Linked DNA regions of Homo sapiens: region 2 is linked to region 1. A link means that fine-mapping ties the variant in region 1 to the expression of a gene that starts in the linked region. Tissue or cell type: caudate. Region 1 holds a variant in brackets; the other region holds the start of a gene. All regions are shown on one strand. Distances are between the middles of the regions.

Region 1 (8,105 bases):
AACAGTCTTGTCATTGAAGCTTTAATATTATTAATTTCTAAGCTCCAAAACCTGAGGGAGGAAAGGGAAGGCTGAAGTCTCAAGAAAGAGCAAAGTAGTGAGATGACTGAAATGCAACTTCCTACCTCACAAGTTTGTCTTGGGTTAATTCTAAGGCCTAAAAACTACCAAGTATCCACTCAGTAAATAGCTGTTGAATAAATGAATGAACAGATGTCTCAATAAGCAAAATTGGTTTAATATGTCTATTTAGTGTTCAATTTCTCATAAGGATGTTATTTCCATGTTTAGGATAAAAATTCAAAATAGAGTTTTCAGCTCCTTACATTAGCTAAGGTGGGTGTACATTTATCTCCTGCCTGGTACCTTTCCTTTCCGACAAGTTTCTAGTCTGCTGTATTACACTATCTAAAACAGCCACTCTGAGCTGACTAGCACCTTATCACTTTAGACTTTCCTCACCTCCTCTGGCCCGGCACATCTAATATTTTGTTTAATCCTAAGTACTCCAGTTATTGCTCATGTCAAGAACAGACACATTATCACTGGAATTCAGGCTGAGGAAGAAGCTCCACTGAAGCCTTCAGTCTAAACATTAAGAATCAAGGAAGGCCTTTATTTATTTATTTTTCAAATACCAGCCATCCTTCCTCTGCACCCCAAATCATCAAATGTTTTTATCAACTCTCTGTAAAAATTTTGAATTTCTTAAAAAACTGAAACAGAGATGATAAATACAAGTAGCCAGTTTTAAGTACCACTGCTTCTTACTTCAAAGAATTTCCTCTAGATTTGCTATTGTTTGCAAAATATATAGCGGTGGCTCACGCCTGTAATCCCAACACTTTGGGAGGCCAAGGTGGGTGGATCACGAGGTCAGGAGATCGAAGCCATCCTGGCTAACACAGTGAAACCCCGTCTCTACTAAAAATACAAAAAATTAGCTGGGCGTGGTGGCACGTGCCTGTAGTCCCAGCTACTCGGGCGGCTGAGGCAGGAGAATCACTTGAACCTGGGAGGCAAAGGTTGCAGTGAGCCAAGATCGCGCCACTTCACTGCAGCCTGGGCGACAGAGTGAGACTCCATCTCAAAAAATAAATAAATAAAATAAATATGTATAAAACATATATTAAATATTCCAGTTACAAAAATAACAATTACCAAAAACTCCAACAAATAATATCTGTGCCTAATATACAATGTGGCAATGTTCATTATGAAGTTTTAATACAGAGAACTTTTTTTCAGAATTTTTAAGAGAATAAATTTTTCTTTTAAGAATACCTAAGCCTTATGAACATCTGATGTTCAAATACCCAGCAATGGCTGGTCATCTTTTGCTTGCCTAAACTCCATCTGAACAACGGCAAAGCTCTGCTGAACCAACCAACATAAGGAATTGCACATCCCCACATTTCTTTCCATCTTTTTCTTTTCTGTCAGACTTTCACTCTTTTGCTGATAGTAAGTACCCTTAATCTATTAAAAGAAATACAAAAATCACTTCTGACTTGCCTATTCTCTTTCATTATATGCATATTTACATCACCACTGTATGACAAATTATTTCACCTCATAGACCCTGTTTTCTGATCTGTAAAAGTGGTTAATGGTACTTACCTAAAAGGTTGTAAAATGTTTTTAAATAAAGTATGTAAAGCTTTCAGTGCAATGCCTTGTATTTGGCAAGTGCATTGTAAATGGGAGTATTATCTACATCAACATCTTCATCAAGATTACAATACTGCTCTGACTCATTCCTGATTAAGGTCATGCATTACTTAACAAGGATATAGTCTGAAAAATTCATCATGAGGTGATTCCATCGTTGTGCAAACATCATACAGTGCACTTACACAAACATAGATGGTATAGTCTACAACACATCTAGGCTATATATGGCATTGTCTATTGTTCCTAGGCTGCAAACCTGGCAGCCTATTATTGTACTGAATACTGTAAGCAGTTGTAACATAATGGTCAATATTTGTGTACCTAAATGTAGAAAAGGTACAGTAAAAGTAAACTATAGAAGATATAAAGTGGTACACTTAGGCCAGGCACAGTGGCTCATGCCTGTAATCCCAGCAATTTGGGAGGCAGAGGCAGGAGGATCTCTTGAGCCCAGGAGTTCAAGACCAGCCTGGGCAACATGATGAAACCCTGTCTGTACCAAAAAAAAAAAAATACAAAAATTAGCTGGGTGTGGTGGTGTGTGCCTGTGGTCCCAGCTACTTAGGAGGCTGAGGTGCAAGGATTGCTTGAGCCCAGGAGGTGGAGACTACAGTGAGGTTTTTTCTTTTTCATTTTCTTTCTTTTTTTTTTTTTTTTTTAAGACAGAGTCTCACTCTGTTGTCCAGGCTGGAGTGCAGTGGCATGATTTTGGCTCACTGCAACCTCCGCCTCCCAAGTTCAAGCAGTTCTCATGCCTCAGCCTCTCGAGCAGCTTAGGACACAGGAGTGTGCCACCATGCCTGGCTAATTTTTGCATTTTTAATAGAGACAGAGTTTCACCATGTGGGCCAGACTGGTCTCAAACTCCTAGCCTCAAGTGATCTGCCTGCCTCAGCCTCCCTAATTGCTGGGATTACAGGTATGAGCCACTGCACACAGCCTATAAGCTTTCTTCTATTTAAAAATTTTTATTTATTTATTTTTTACTTTCAAACTTTTTTGTTTAAAAATGAAGACATAGCCAGGTGCTATGGTGCAAGCCTATAATCCCAGCTACTCAGAAGGCTGAGGTGGGAGGATTGTCCAAGGCCAGGAGTTCGAGGCTGCAGTGCAATATGATTGCACCTGTGAACAGCCACTGCACTCCAGCGTGGGCCAACATAGTGAGGCCTAGTCTCAAAAAAAAACAAAAAACAAAAAGACATAAACACACATTACACATGAGACTAGGCCTACACAGGGCCAGGGTCTTCAATATCACTGTCTTTCACCTCCTTATCTTCTCCCATTGGAAGGTCTTCAGGAGCAGTAACATGCATGGAGCTGCCATCTCCTATGGTAACTATGCCTTATCTGGAATACCTCCTGAAGGACTGTTTTGCAGTTAACTTTTTTTTAAGTATAAAAAAGACACTCTAAAATAATAAGACAAGTATAATATAGCAAGTACATAAACCAATAACGCAGTCGTCTGTTATCATTATCAAGTACCATGTACTGTACATATTGTATGTACTATACTTTTATAGGACTGGCAGCACAGTAGGTTCGTTTACACCAGCATCATCACAAATATGTAAGTAATGTGTTGTACCATGATCAGCTCTGACATATCTGGGCAATAAAAATTTTTCAGCTCCACTGCAATCTTAAGGAACTACCACTGTATATGAAGTTTGTCATTGACCAAAAGGTCATTATATGGTGTGTGACTGTAATATAAAAATAGTTATTGTGATAAAATTATTTTAAGGGAGGGAGACAATGGATTTGGAAGTAAAATTAGTCATTTTGTTAGTTTTTTATTGCTGCTGTAACAGATTATGACAAACTTAAACATTAAAATAACACAGATTGGCCAGGAACTGTGACTCTCACACTTCTAAGCCCAGCACTTTGGGAGGCTGAGGCAGGAGGATTGCTTGAGCCCAGGAGTTGGAGACCAGGGTGGGCAATGTAGTGAGACCCCATCTCTACAAAAAATAAAAAAATTAGCCAGGTGTGGTGGCACATGTCTGTAGCTCCACCTACTCAGGAGGTTGAGGCAGGAGGATCATTTGAGCCTGGGAGGTTGAGGCTGTAGTGAGCCCAGACCATGCCACTGCACTCTAGCCTGAGCAACAGAGCAAGACCTGTACCTAACAAAATAAAAATAAAAAAAACAACACAGATGTATTATTGTATAGATCTGGAGATCAGAAGTTTCAAATGGGTTGGCAAGGCTCCTTTCCTTCTGGAGGCTCTAGGAGGA[G/A]AATCCATTTCCCTGTCTGTCTCAGCTTCTAGAGGCTGCCCACATTCCTTGGATCTAGCCCCCACATCACTCTGACCTCTACTTCATCACATCACCTTCTCTCCCTTTGTCTCACATTTCCTTTTTTTATAAAGATCCTTGTGATTACATTGGGGACATCAGATAACCCAGGATAATCTCCCAATTTCAAGATCCTTAATCACATTTGCAAATTCCCTTTTGCCATATAACGTAACAGTGGTAGGTTCTGAGGATTTGCATATGGAAATAATGGAGGCCATTATTTAGTTTAACACAGTCATTAAAAAAAAAGAAATTGGGGCATTTAACCTTCTAGAAACTGAACTGAAATTTCTCCATAATCAATAGAAAACTTTCTATTTTCTCAACACTAGTGAAACCTGCTTTTCTTTGGTGACACCAATTGATAAAACTATTTCTGATTCAATATGTTGCTTTCCCCTTTGGTTATCAGTAGTTTAATTGAATCATTGACTACAGTTTTATGGCAAATGTGAATTCTGGGTTGAACGAACTAAATTGAGATGCAAATAACAATTTGTAACATTGATCCTGTGGGTGAATTATTTCATAGTCCCAACAAATGTACTTATGTTTACCAACTTGCAATACAAGGTCTTTTTAAAAGTAATTAATTTATTTTTATTTTTATTTTTTTAAAGACAGGGTCTCATTCTGTCTTGCAGGCTGTTGTACAGTGGCCTGATTATAGCTCACTGTAGCCTCGAAATTCTGGGCTGAAATGATCCTCCTGCCTCAGCCTCCAAAGTAGCTGAGACTAGAGGTATGTGTCACCACACCCATCTAAATTTTATATATTTTTTCTAGAGACAAGGGTATGTAGCCCAGGTATTTGACCCTCCAAATCTGATGTTGAAATTGGATACCCAGTGTTGGAGGTGGGGCCTAATGGAAGGTATTTGGGTCATGGGGCAGATCCCTCATGAATAGATTAATGTTCTCCCTGGGTTGCAGGTGAGTGAGTTTTTGGTCTCTTAGTTCCTGTGAGAGCTAGGTTTTATAGGATTTTTTTTTTTTTTTTAGGCTGGTCTTGAACTCTTGGGCTGAAGAGATTCTCCCACCTCAGCCTCCCAAGGTGTTGAGATTACAAGCATGAGCCACCTCACCTGGCCAAGAGCTAGTTGTTAAAAGAGCCTAGCAGTACCCACCTCTTTCTTGTTTCCTCTCTCACCATGTGATCTCCACACACATTGGCTTGCCTTCCCTTTCTGACATGAGCGGAAGCAGCCTGAGGCCCTCACCAGATGTGGATGCCAGTGCCATGCTTCTTGTACAATCTGCAGAATCATAAGCTAAATACACCTCTTTTCTTTATAAATTACCCAGCCTTGGGTATTCCTTTATAGCAACACAAACGGAGAAAGACATATGCAATTTGCCATTTTAATCATTTTTAACTGTACAATTTGGTGGTATTAATTATATTTACAATGTTGTGCAACCGTTACCACCATCTATTACCAAAGCCCTTTCATCACCCCAAATAGAAACTGTGCTTATTCAGCAAAAACTCCCATTTTCCTCTCCTTCCAGCCCCTGGTAACCTCTGGTAACCTCTAATCTACTTCCTGTCTCTATGAATTTGCCTATTGTAAATATTTCACATAATGGTATCATACACTATCCTTTTGTGTCTAGCTTATTTCACTTAGCATAATGTTTTCAAGGTTCATCCATCTTATAGCATGTATCAGTATTCCATTCTTCTTTTCTATGGCTGAATAATAATTGTATGTATATACTGCATCTTGTTTATCCATTTATCTTTTTGTTTGTTTGTTTTTTAAAGACAGGGTTTTACCATGTTGGCCAAGCTAGTCTCGAACTCCTGAACTCAGGTGATCCGCCCACCTTGGCCTCACAAAGTACTGGGATTACAGGCGTGAGCCATCGTGCCTGGCCTATCCGTTTATCTTTTGATAGACATTTTGGTTGTTTCTACCTTTTGTCTATTGTGAATAATGCTGCTATGAACATTAGTGTACAAGTCACTGATTAAGTTGTTGTTTTCAATTCTTTGGGGTATTGTATTAGGCCATTCTTGCATTGATATAAAGAAATACCTGAGACTGGGTAAGTGCCAAAGAAAAAAGGGTTTAGTTGGCTCACATTTCTGCAGTCTGTACAGGAAGCATAGCAGCATCTGCTTCCAGGGAGGCTTCAGGAAGCTTCCAATCATGATGGAAGGCAAAGTGGGTGCAGGCATGTCACATGGCAAAAGCCAGAGCAAGAGAGGAAGTGGGGAGGTGCTGCACACTTTTAAACAATCAAATCTTGTGAGAACTCACAATCTTGATGACAGCTAGAGATGGTGAAGCCACTCATGAGAAACCACTCCCATGATCCAATCACCTCCCACCAGGCCCCAACTCTAACACCGGAGATTAATTACATTTCAACATGAGATTTGCATAGGAACAAACAGTCAAACTATATCCGGTATATACTTAAGAGTAGAATTACTGGGTGATAATTCTGTTTTACGTTTTGAGGAATTGCCAAACTATCTTCCTCAGCAGTTAAACCATTTACATTCCCACCAGAGGTATACTAGGTTTCCAATTTCTCCACATGTTCAACAACACTAGTTATTTTTTCTTCTAATTATAGCCATTCTAGTAGGTACAAAGTGGTATCTCATTGTGGTTTTAGCATCTTTTGAGTTGCTTATTGACCATTTACATGTCTTTTTTTTAGAGAAGTGTCTAAGTCTTTTGTCCATTAAAAATTTGAGTTATTTATCTTTTATTTGTTGAGTTGTAGGATTCTTTATGCATTCAATTCTTTTGGGTATTGTATTAGGCCATTCTTGCATTGCCATAAAGAAATGCCTGAGTATATTAGTTTTTTGTCAGATGTATGATTTGCAAACATTTTCTCCAATTTTTTGTGTTATCTTTTCACTCTCTTTATAGTGTCACTTGATACACAATTTTGATGAAGTCCAATTTATCAGTTGTTTCATCACTTGTACTTTTGATGTTATATTTAAGAAACCATTGTCAAACCCAAGGTCATGAAGATTTTTCAGTATGTTTTCCTCTAAGAGTTTTATAGCATTTAATATTTAAGTGTTTTATAGCATTAAATTTTGGTCTTTGATCCATTTTGAGTTAATGTTTGTACATTGTGTAAAAGTATAGGTCCAACTTCATTCTTTTGCTTGTGGATATCTAGTTTCCCCAACACCATTTGTTGAAGAGATTGTCCTTTTCCCCATTGAGTGATCCTGGAACCCTTGCTGAAAATTAATTACCCATAGATGTGAGTGTTAGTTCTGGCCTCTCGATTCTATTCCATTGGTCTATATTGTCTATCTCTGTGCCAAGTCCATGCTATTTCAATTATTATAGCTATGTAGTACATTTTAATATCAGAAAATGTGAGTCCTACAACTTTGTTCCTCTTCAGATTATTTTGGCTATTTTGGGTTCCTTGAAATTTTATATGAATTTTAGAATAGGTTTTTCCGTTTCTGCCAAAAGCGCTGTTGGGATCTTATTAGCGTGATTACATTGACTCTACATATCATTTTGAGTAGCGTTGTCGTTTTAACAATATTAAGTCTTCCAACTTATGAACACAGGATCTCTTTCCATTTATTTAAGTCTGCTTTAATTTCTTTCCAGAATGCTTTGTAGTTTTCAGTGTACAAGTCTTCTGCCTTCCTGGTTAAATTGATTTCTAAATATTTTATTCTTTTGGGTACTACTGTAAATAAAAAATTCTTAATTTCCTTTTCAGATTTTTTACTGCTAGTGTGTAGAAACACGACTGATTTTTGTGTGTTGATTTTGTATTCTGAAGCCTTGCTAAATTTGTTTATTAGCTTTAAGAGGCTATTTTTGGTATTCTTTAGGGCTTTCTACACTTATATCACTTGCAAATAGAGATAGTTTTACTTCTTCCTTTCTAATTTGGATTTATTTTATTTCTTTTTCTTGCCTGATGGGTCTGGCTAGAACTGCCAATACTGTGTTGAATAGAAGTGGCAAACACAGGCATCCATGGCTTCTGATTTTAGTGGAAAAGCTTGAAATTTTTCCCCATTGAGAATGATGTTAGTCGTGAGTTCTTAATACATGGTCTTTATCATGTTGAGACAGTTCCTTTCTATTCCTGGTTTGTTGGACAGTTC
Region 2 (8,105 bases), 220 kb before region 1:
GTCCAAAGTCAAATACAAAGAAAAAAAATTGAAAGCAGCAGGAGAAAACTGACTTGTCACATAAAAGAGAACCTCCAAAAGACTATCACGAGATTTCTCAGTGGAAACCCTGCAGACCAGGAGAGAATGAAATGATATATTCAAAGTACTGAAAGAAAAAAAAAAAAAACCCACCTGTCAATCAGGAATTCTGTACCCAGCAATGTGTCTTTTATTAGTGAAGGAGAGATAAAAACTATCCCAGACAAACATATACTGAGGGAGTTTGTCACCACTAGGTCCACCTTGCAAGAAGTGCTAAAGGAAGTTCTCGAGGTTGAAATAAAAAGAGGTTAAACAGAAACACAAATGCACACAAAAGTATAAGTTTCACTGGTAAAAGTAATTATAAAGACAAGTAGAGTTTTCCTTTCCCCAAGATGGCTGTCTAGAGACATTGGACACCAGTTCTCCTCAGAACAAAGAACCAAAATTGCAGTTGAATAATCATGGTCTGAGTGGAATACTGAGGAATGAGTGACATGACCTATTGGGGAACCCACAGGAAAAAGCTGTGGTGCTGAAAAAGAAGACAGCAAGAGTTTTGCAGAGATTGACTTCCAAGGAACATAGAGTCCCATGGAGAGGGTAGGAGGGGAAGTTGCTCCCCTCACTCCTGTGGCAGACTATGGACTGCTGAACTTGTTGGAGAAACCCTCTGCACCTGTGAGCCCAGGCATTGCTGTCAGTGGCAATTTGGGAACTTCTTTAGGGCAGAGCATTGGGTGGCCAGCTCATGCAGGCACACTCGCTCTCCCCCAAAACCTGAGTTGAAGTGGCAGGTGTCATACTGGTTATGCACCCATTGTGGGTCTGTTCTTCCCAAGGAATCCCAGCCCTTGTGTTTCTGCATCACTAGATCCTCCATGAACATTCCCCAGAACCCACTTAGACTGCAGCAACCACAGGGGACGGGTGGGACCCTGGGGAGCTATGGAATTCCTAGAAGTCTAGCTCTTAGGAGAAGGGAGAGTGTCTGTGCCAACGTACTCCTTTGGATAAAAGAAACCAGTTCATTTGCTCTCCTCTGCCTAAGAGCTCCCCACGTGTGAGAAGAGGCTGGCTGTGCCCCTCCCAGCAGAGACACAGGCATGGTTCTGGGGTCTGAAGGGGAGGAGTGTGGTTCTGCACCAGTAGGCAGGTGACACTGGTGCCTGGGAATAAACATGGAAAGGGAGTCTTCTCCTACCCCCTCACTCAATGCTCCAGATAGACCGTTGGCTGTCCCTACTGGGAGCTGGCACAAGTGCACCTGGGGATGGCTTTTGAGGGCTCCTGGGGGCAGCTGCACTCCCATTGATGGGGTGCCTGCTGGCCAAGCCTTGCACGAAGGGCAGAGTTTATCCTCCTCCCCATATGGAGCAGCAGCATTCCCATAGCAGAATGCAGATGAATATCAGAGCTGCTGAGGGAAGAGGTTCTATCCCAAGGCCATTTTGGTGGTAGCCACAGGACGGGTGTTTTCTGCAGACCTCCATCACACTGCAGCCTGGAGATGAAGGACAATGTCTATCTGAACTGAAGGTCACAAGCTCCGGGACAAGGGTGTTTTAGGAAAGTGGATTGCCTTCCTGCCTTCCCAGGATGTGGAGCTGGTATACTCCTTCCCACTCTGGTGGAGACATCAGTGCCTTTCACCATGAGCTCCCATTTCCACTCCCATCAAGGCAGTTGCTTCTGCTCATAATTGGGGTTTCCCAGGGTGAGCTTGGTCGTTTAGTGCCCCTCAGTTTTGTGTCCCCCTCCAAAGCTTTGTGTTCCCTTCAGGGAATCAGGCCATCCACAGACCAGCCAACTGCCTGTGACAACAGAGATCCCCTCCCAGAAAACAAAGACCAAGTACCCATCAGCTTATGCCACAGCCAGCTTTTATTGGGATGCAGATTGAATTGCACAACCAAATAAAAAACAGGCTGACAGAGGGTATAGTGCTGGGGAATGAGATAAACTTTCAGAGACTTCCACATTCCCAGCCCCTCAGAAGGTAGTATTCCTGCTCATATGCCCAATACATTGCTACTACAATCAGCATAATAAAGCCACCACACAAAAGCTATCTATACAGCATAATAAAGCCACCACACAAAAGCTATCTATGACCAAGGAACTCATACAGAGCTGTGACCCACGGAAGGCACCCAAAATTGAAGCCAAATGATCACACACAACATACAGTCACACCTTCAAAGGGGGAAAAAATCCCATTCAAATGAGAGTAAGTTCAAAAGTAAGAAGTAACGGGTTCTCTAGATGAGAAGAAATCAGCATAAGCACTCTGGAAGTACGAAAAACCAGTATTTTGACATGCCCAAAGGATCACACCAGCTCCCTAGCAATGGATCCTAACCAATATAAAAATTTTGAAATAACAAATAAAGAATTTAAGATATGAGTTGTAAGGAAGCTCAATGAGATACAAGAGAAAGTTGAAAACTAACATAAGGAAATCAGAAAAATAATTCAGGATATTAATGAAAAATTTACAAAAGAGATAGAGATTAAAAAACAAAAACCAAATAGAACTTCTAGAAATAAAAATTTATTGAAGGAACTATAAAATATAGTTGAAACTTTTAGCAAAAGACTAGACCAAGCAGAAGAAATAATTTCAGAGCCTGAAGGCCAGTCATTTGAATTAACCTAGTCAGACAGAAATACAGAAAAAATAAATTTTTAAAAATGAACAAAGACTTTGAAAAATATAGAATTACATAAAGTTACCAAATATACAATATATAGACATTCCTGAGGGAGAAGAAAAAAAATTAAAAGCTTGGAAAACCTATTTGAGGGAATAATTCAGGAAAACTTCCCTGGTCTTGCTAGAGAATTAGACATCCAGATAGGAGATGCTCAGAGAACACCTGGAAGATGCTTTACAAGAGAAACCTCATAAAGGCATATCGTCATCAGACTATCCAAAGTCAATGTGAAGGAAAACATCCTAAAAGCAGCAAGAGAGAAATGTCTAATCTATACAGGAAAACCCAACAGACTAACAATGGACTTCTTAGCAGAAACCTTACAAGCCAGAAGAGATTGGGGTCTTATGTTTAATCTACTTAAACAAAAATCCTGCCAGCCAAGAATTTTGTATCCTGCTAAACTAAGCTGCATAAATGAAGGAGAAATAAAGTTTTTCCCATACAACAAATGCAAAGGGAATTTGTCACCACAAGACCAGCACTACAAGAAATGCTTAAAGTTCTAAACATGGAAATGAATGGACAATACTCCTCATCATAAAAGCACATTAAAGTGAAAAACTCACAGATTATATAAAGCAATTACATAATTGAGACTAAAAAGCAACTGGGTAACAATTATCATGACAGGAACAAAACATCACATATCAATATTAACCTTGATAATAAATGGAGTAAATGTTCCACTTAAAAGATACAGATTGGTGCTGGGTATGATGGCTTACACTTGTAATCTCAGAACTTCGGTAGGCTGAGGCAGGAGAATTGCTTGAGACCAGGAGTTTGAGACCAGCGTGGGCAACAGAGTGAGACCCCATCTCTGTAAAAAATTAAAAAGAGAAATTAGCCAGGTGTGATCATGCTCACCTGTAAAGAGGCTGAGGCAGGACAATCACTTGAGCCCAGGAGTTTGAGGCTGCAGTGAGCTATAAATGCATTATGGCACTCTAGCCTGGGTGACAGAGTGAGACTGTCTCAAAAAAAAAAAAAATACATACAGACTAAAAGATTGGATAAAAGTAGCATCAGCTCAGGGGTCCTAACTAGTTACAAGAACAGTGCACAAGACAAACACCAGCTAAGATGGCAGGGAGAACAAGCCTGAACAAGGCAAGGCAGAGGTCTGCTAAGGGAAATCCATCCCACAAAAGACAAGCAAGGCAGGGGCTCTCTGAGGCCTAGAGCAGCATGCAAAAGAGCAACTCTTTCCAGGTGGCAGCTCCCTAGCTGCTGCCCCCACATGCTGCTGCCTCTGCAGCCACTCTACCTGCCCCACCCCTGCCCAGGTATTCCAAGCAGCTCTCAGCTCTTTCCCAATATCTGGGCAGTGCTGTTGAGACAAAGGAAGAGGAGAAGTGGACACAGCAGGTCTTGGCTCTTAAGATCTGCAGTTGTGAGTTCCTTTTGCAATCGCTGTAGGTCATTGTGCAACCTGCTGGTCTCTGGACTCCTGATTTCTAGACATCTATAAAATACAGACACTGATGATGCCACTTAATTCACAGAGCTGCAGTGAGAAAGGTGCAGATGAGTTCAAGGCCTGATAGTGTTCTGCAAACTATAGTGATGGATGTGCATAGTATTGTGAATATCAGTGGCAGGTTTCCAGAACGCAGGTGGGGATAAGAGTGAGTGAGTCAATAAAGAAGAAAATTGCCCCACTTCTTGAAGGGAGTTTTTGGGGCTGGGCAGCTCAGGGTACAGGGCAGGCATAAATAGTGAGTGCCTGCCAAGCAAAGGCTAGTTTGCTTGGAGCTCCTGGGGCCTAACAAAAAGAAACCTGTAAGTGTCTCTGTTCTTGCCTTCTTTTTATTTTCTCCACATCCTATAAATATCCCTCTGCCGACCTGGGCAATTCAACCTATTGGTGTGGAGGGTCTGTGTAGCTGTTCTGGTCTAGGAGGCATGGGCGCAGGAGGTGGGGAGCACAGGAGGTCTTATGGTGCTCTTCTGCCCCTTATTCAGTGGCCTCAGCCCAGGGGAGGATTTGCTTTCTGAGCTGGGGGTGCACAGGGTGGAAGAGTGGGTGTGACACTATCTAGACCTGGGATGCCACAGTGTGGAAGCTTCAGGTGGAAAAATGCAATGCTAATTTATCTCTAGGCTCTTTTCTGCACTGATTTCTTCAGAAAGGACAGTGGAAGAGAGACAAACCCAGGCACTCACAGGCTGGGGTTCTAAACCCATCCTGGTGCCAACAGCCTGTGGAAAAGCAGGGCAAGCCTGTTTTTCTCATAGCTTCAGGTCTTTACTTTAAAAAATATACTTACTGGAGTAGGTCTCTGATTTTCCAATCCATGTTCAGAGGAGATGGCCTTTTCAATGAAATTGTACTCTGAAAGCTTAGCATAAACTGGGCACTGCAGGGGTTGAGGGGGACCACAACTCTGCCCACTCCATCTGCTGCCCCAGCTAAGATGCCTCATCTGAATCCTGGGCCTGAAAACCCGGGTCTGCCCTCTCCAAGTGTCCTTCAAGCCACAGTGGCTGCTGGTGCCTTCTGTGCCATCTTGAGCCTGTAGACAGAATGCCTATTGCCTTTCATTCTTCCCCAGAATCAGACACAGGGCCTGAGGGGTGAGGGAGCTGCGGGGCACAGAACAATGCCCTTGCTCTGGCCTGGGTCTGGCCCTTGCTGCTCATGATTGAGCCTCTGCCAGAACAGGTGTAACAAGGTAGCCGCTGCTGGCAGTGAGCTCACCCAGGTGTTTCTAGAGACTACCAGGATACCCAAGGAAGTGGTGATTTCAAAATTGAAAGAGGCTAGTGAGAAATAGGGGTCATCCACAGCCCAGAATCACCAGCAGTCAAAGAAGAAGGCACTCCTCTGGGCAGGAAGCCCCCCACTTGCCACCACCCCAGTTGGCCTGGTGACCCCTTTCTTTGCACAAGTCCCTCTGGCTTTGTTCCTAGCCTCTGCGAATCTGATCAGCTCTTTTCACTCTCATAACTTTACGGTTTCTCATTGAGAGAAAAGATACCCAAAACAGTTAATGTCCCAGGTCCTGCTCTTATCCTGGTCTCAGTTCCTGACCATCTTAGATAGTAAATGGGTGCCCTGTTGGGTAGTTGCTCTTGCTTACCCACAACACTAGCTTTCTGCCTGACTGAGCCTACCTGGCATGTCCTCTTTCCATATAAGACTTCTTTTTTTTTCTGAGATGGAGTCTCACTCTCTTGCCCAGGCTGGAGTGCAGTGGCACGATCTCGGCTCACTGCACCCTCCACCTCCCGGGTTCAAGAGATTCTCCTGCCTCAGCCTCCCGAGTAGCTGGGATTACAGCACGCACCACCACATCTGGCTAATTTTTTATACTTTTAGTAGAGATGGGGTTTTGCCATGTTGGCCAGGCTGGTCTCGAACTCCTGACTTCAAGTGATCTGCCCGCCTCGGCCTCCCAAAGTGCTGGGGTTACAGGCATGAGCGACCGTGCCCAGACTCCACATACTTCTTTTCCAAACCCTCTCAGGTCTTAGAAGAACTCTAGGTGTCTCAGGATTTCTCCTACTGCTAGTTTAGTGTCTCTGAAAACTTTCACCTGGGTTCCCTCTGGGACTTTTCTCTAGAGACAGCACCTGCTCGAGGAATGGCAAATTGCCAGGCAAATGTGCACCACACTCCCAGCCTGCGCTCAGGAAGGACATTACTAAGCACTCAGGACTCTGGCTGCATTTTCAGACCAGCACTATCAGCACCAGTGCTAGTCCATGCAAGGCAGCAAGAGAGAAGAAACAGGCTTGCCTTGTCTGAGCTAAGCCAGTTGCCTCAGTGGTACAGACAGGGAGATGGTCTAGGGAGTGGGCGGGGGGTGTCCTGCCCAGAGGCACTCAATGAACCCTTCTTGATGTGACAGATGGCCCCAGTGAGGAATGCTACATCCTAGCCACTGTGCCAAACTTAGTGCCCAAGGGAAGGCACAAGAAGGGAAGACATGAGCACCTGGGAATGGGGGATGCTGCTGTCAACCTATGTCAGAGTTCCAGCTGGGTAACTCATGCTCTCCATCCAGACCTTGTGCCCTCCTTGTCCTTAAACTGCTTTTGGATTCCTGCTGCTCTAGGCCCCATAGCAGAGGACAGAAGGAGGGAATGGGGGCTTCTTGTCACCTCTAGAAGCTGAGCCAAGCCCTAAACCATGTCCATGAAGCATAAGCATGTCTTTTCTCTTTCTGTTCACCTCTCCAGGCCATGCTGCTCTTCCTCCTCTCTGCACTGGTCCTGCTCACACAGCCCCTGGGCTACCTGGAAGCAGAAATGAAGACCTACTCCCACAGAACAATGCCCAGTGCTTGCACCCTGGTCATGTGTAGCTCAGTGGAGAGTGGCCTGCCTGGTCGCGATGGACGGGATGGGAGAGAGGGCCCTCGGGGCGAGAAGGGGGACCCAGGTAGGGTGGGGCCCTGGGCTTATCCTGCTGGGGAGGAATGGTCATTGGAACTGTAACTAGCCCAGCAACTCTGGGTACTTTGTTATGGAAGTCTGGAGACGTGTTTCTTCCTCCCAAGAAGGCGAGTTCCACACTGCTCCACCAGCTGGCAAACAAGTGGCTGTGCTGAGCCCCCATGTGCCTCCTCCAGCACCCAACTGCCCTAGCTCCTCCTCTAGGATCCCCGGATCCTTCCTATCCCAAGAGCAAGCAAACAGTGGTAAATTACTGATATCTGGGGCCTTCTAGAGCCCTGTGCCAGCAGTTAGCAGTTGTTCATTCCAATTAAATGATGCCTGTGCAGGGCATTAAATATTTTAAATATTTAATTAAACACTACTGCATGAAGGGTGGGAAAAAAATGGGGCTCCATGGCTCCATTCTCAAGCCTAATCAAGAGGATTTGCTCTAATACATTACACGGGGAGAAAAGGCACTCACATTTCTTTGTCCACCCTTGTGCTTGGGCATTCACTGGAGTAGTTCATTTAATCCTCCCAAGAGTCTTACAGGGGACATATTAATCTCCTTCGACAGGTAAGAAAATGATGATGCAGAGAGGCTAAGTAGCAACCATTCTGGAGGTGGAAAGGACGAAGGCTCTGCATCAGACTGGCCTGGGCTCCATCTCCACACTGGGAGAGCCCCTCAGTGTCACTGAGTCTGTTTTTTTTATCTGGTAATGGGAATGATATCTACCACCCAGTGATGAATCATTGAGCCAAAGGCTTTATTTTTTCTTGAGTCTTTGGGATAAAGTTGCATTTTCTGCTGTACCTAATAGGTGAATTATCTTGAGCTTAGCAGAGGTACTGATGAGTAAGGGAATTGTCCCTGGAAATACTGCTCCCCGCTTGTAGGGAAAGATCTAGGTCTTACTGGCAAGAAAGGAGAATTCCATCAGCCAGCAGCATGAACTGAGGGACCTCTATGAC

Evidence for each region. PIP is the estimated chance that this variant, and not a neighbour inherited with it, causes the effect.
Region 2: it holds the start of SFTPD, and the variant in region 1 is fine-mapped to the expression of SFTPD in caudate (GTEx, PIP above 0.99).

Annotation. Positions count from the first base shown.
Region 1 is chr10:79,720,540-79,728,644 of GRCh38, reverse strand. The region is part of intron 6 of NUTM2B-AS1 (NUTM2B antisense RNA 1); the gene reads left to right. Among named protein-coding and RNA genes, the nearest start is that of NUTM2B, 21 kb to the right of the region's middle. The variant G/A (reference allele first, on the strand shown) is at 3,926.
Region 2 is chr10:79,945,487-79,953,591 of GRCh38, reverse strand. SFTPD (surfactant protein D) reads left to right here and starts at 4,487. Exons shown (of 8, transcript NM_003019.5): 1 at 4,487-4,526; 2 at 6,930-7,131. The coding sequence starts at 6,933.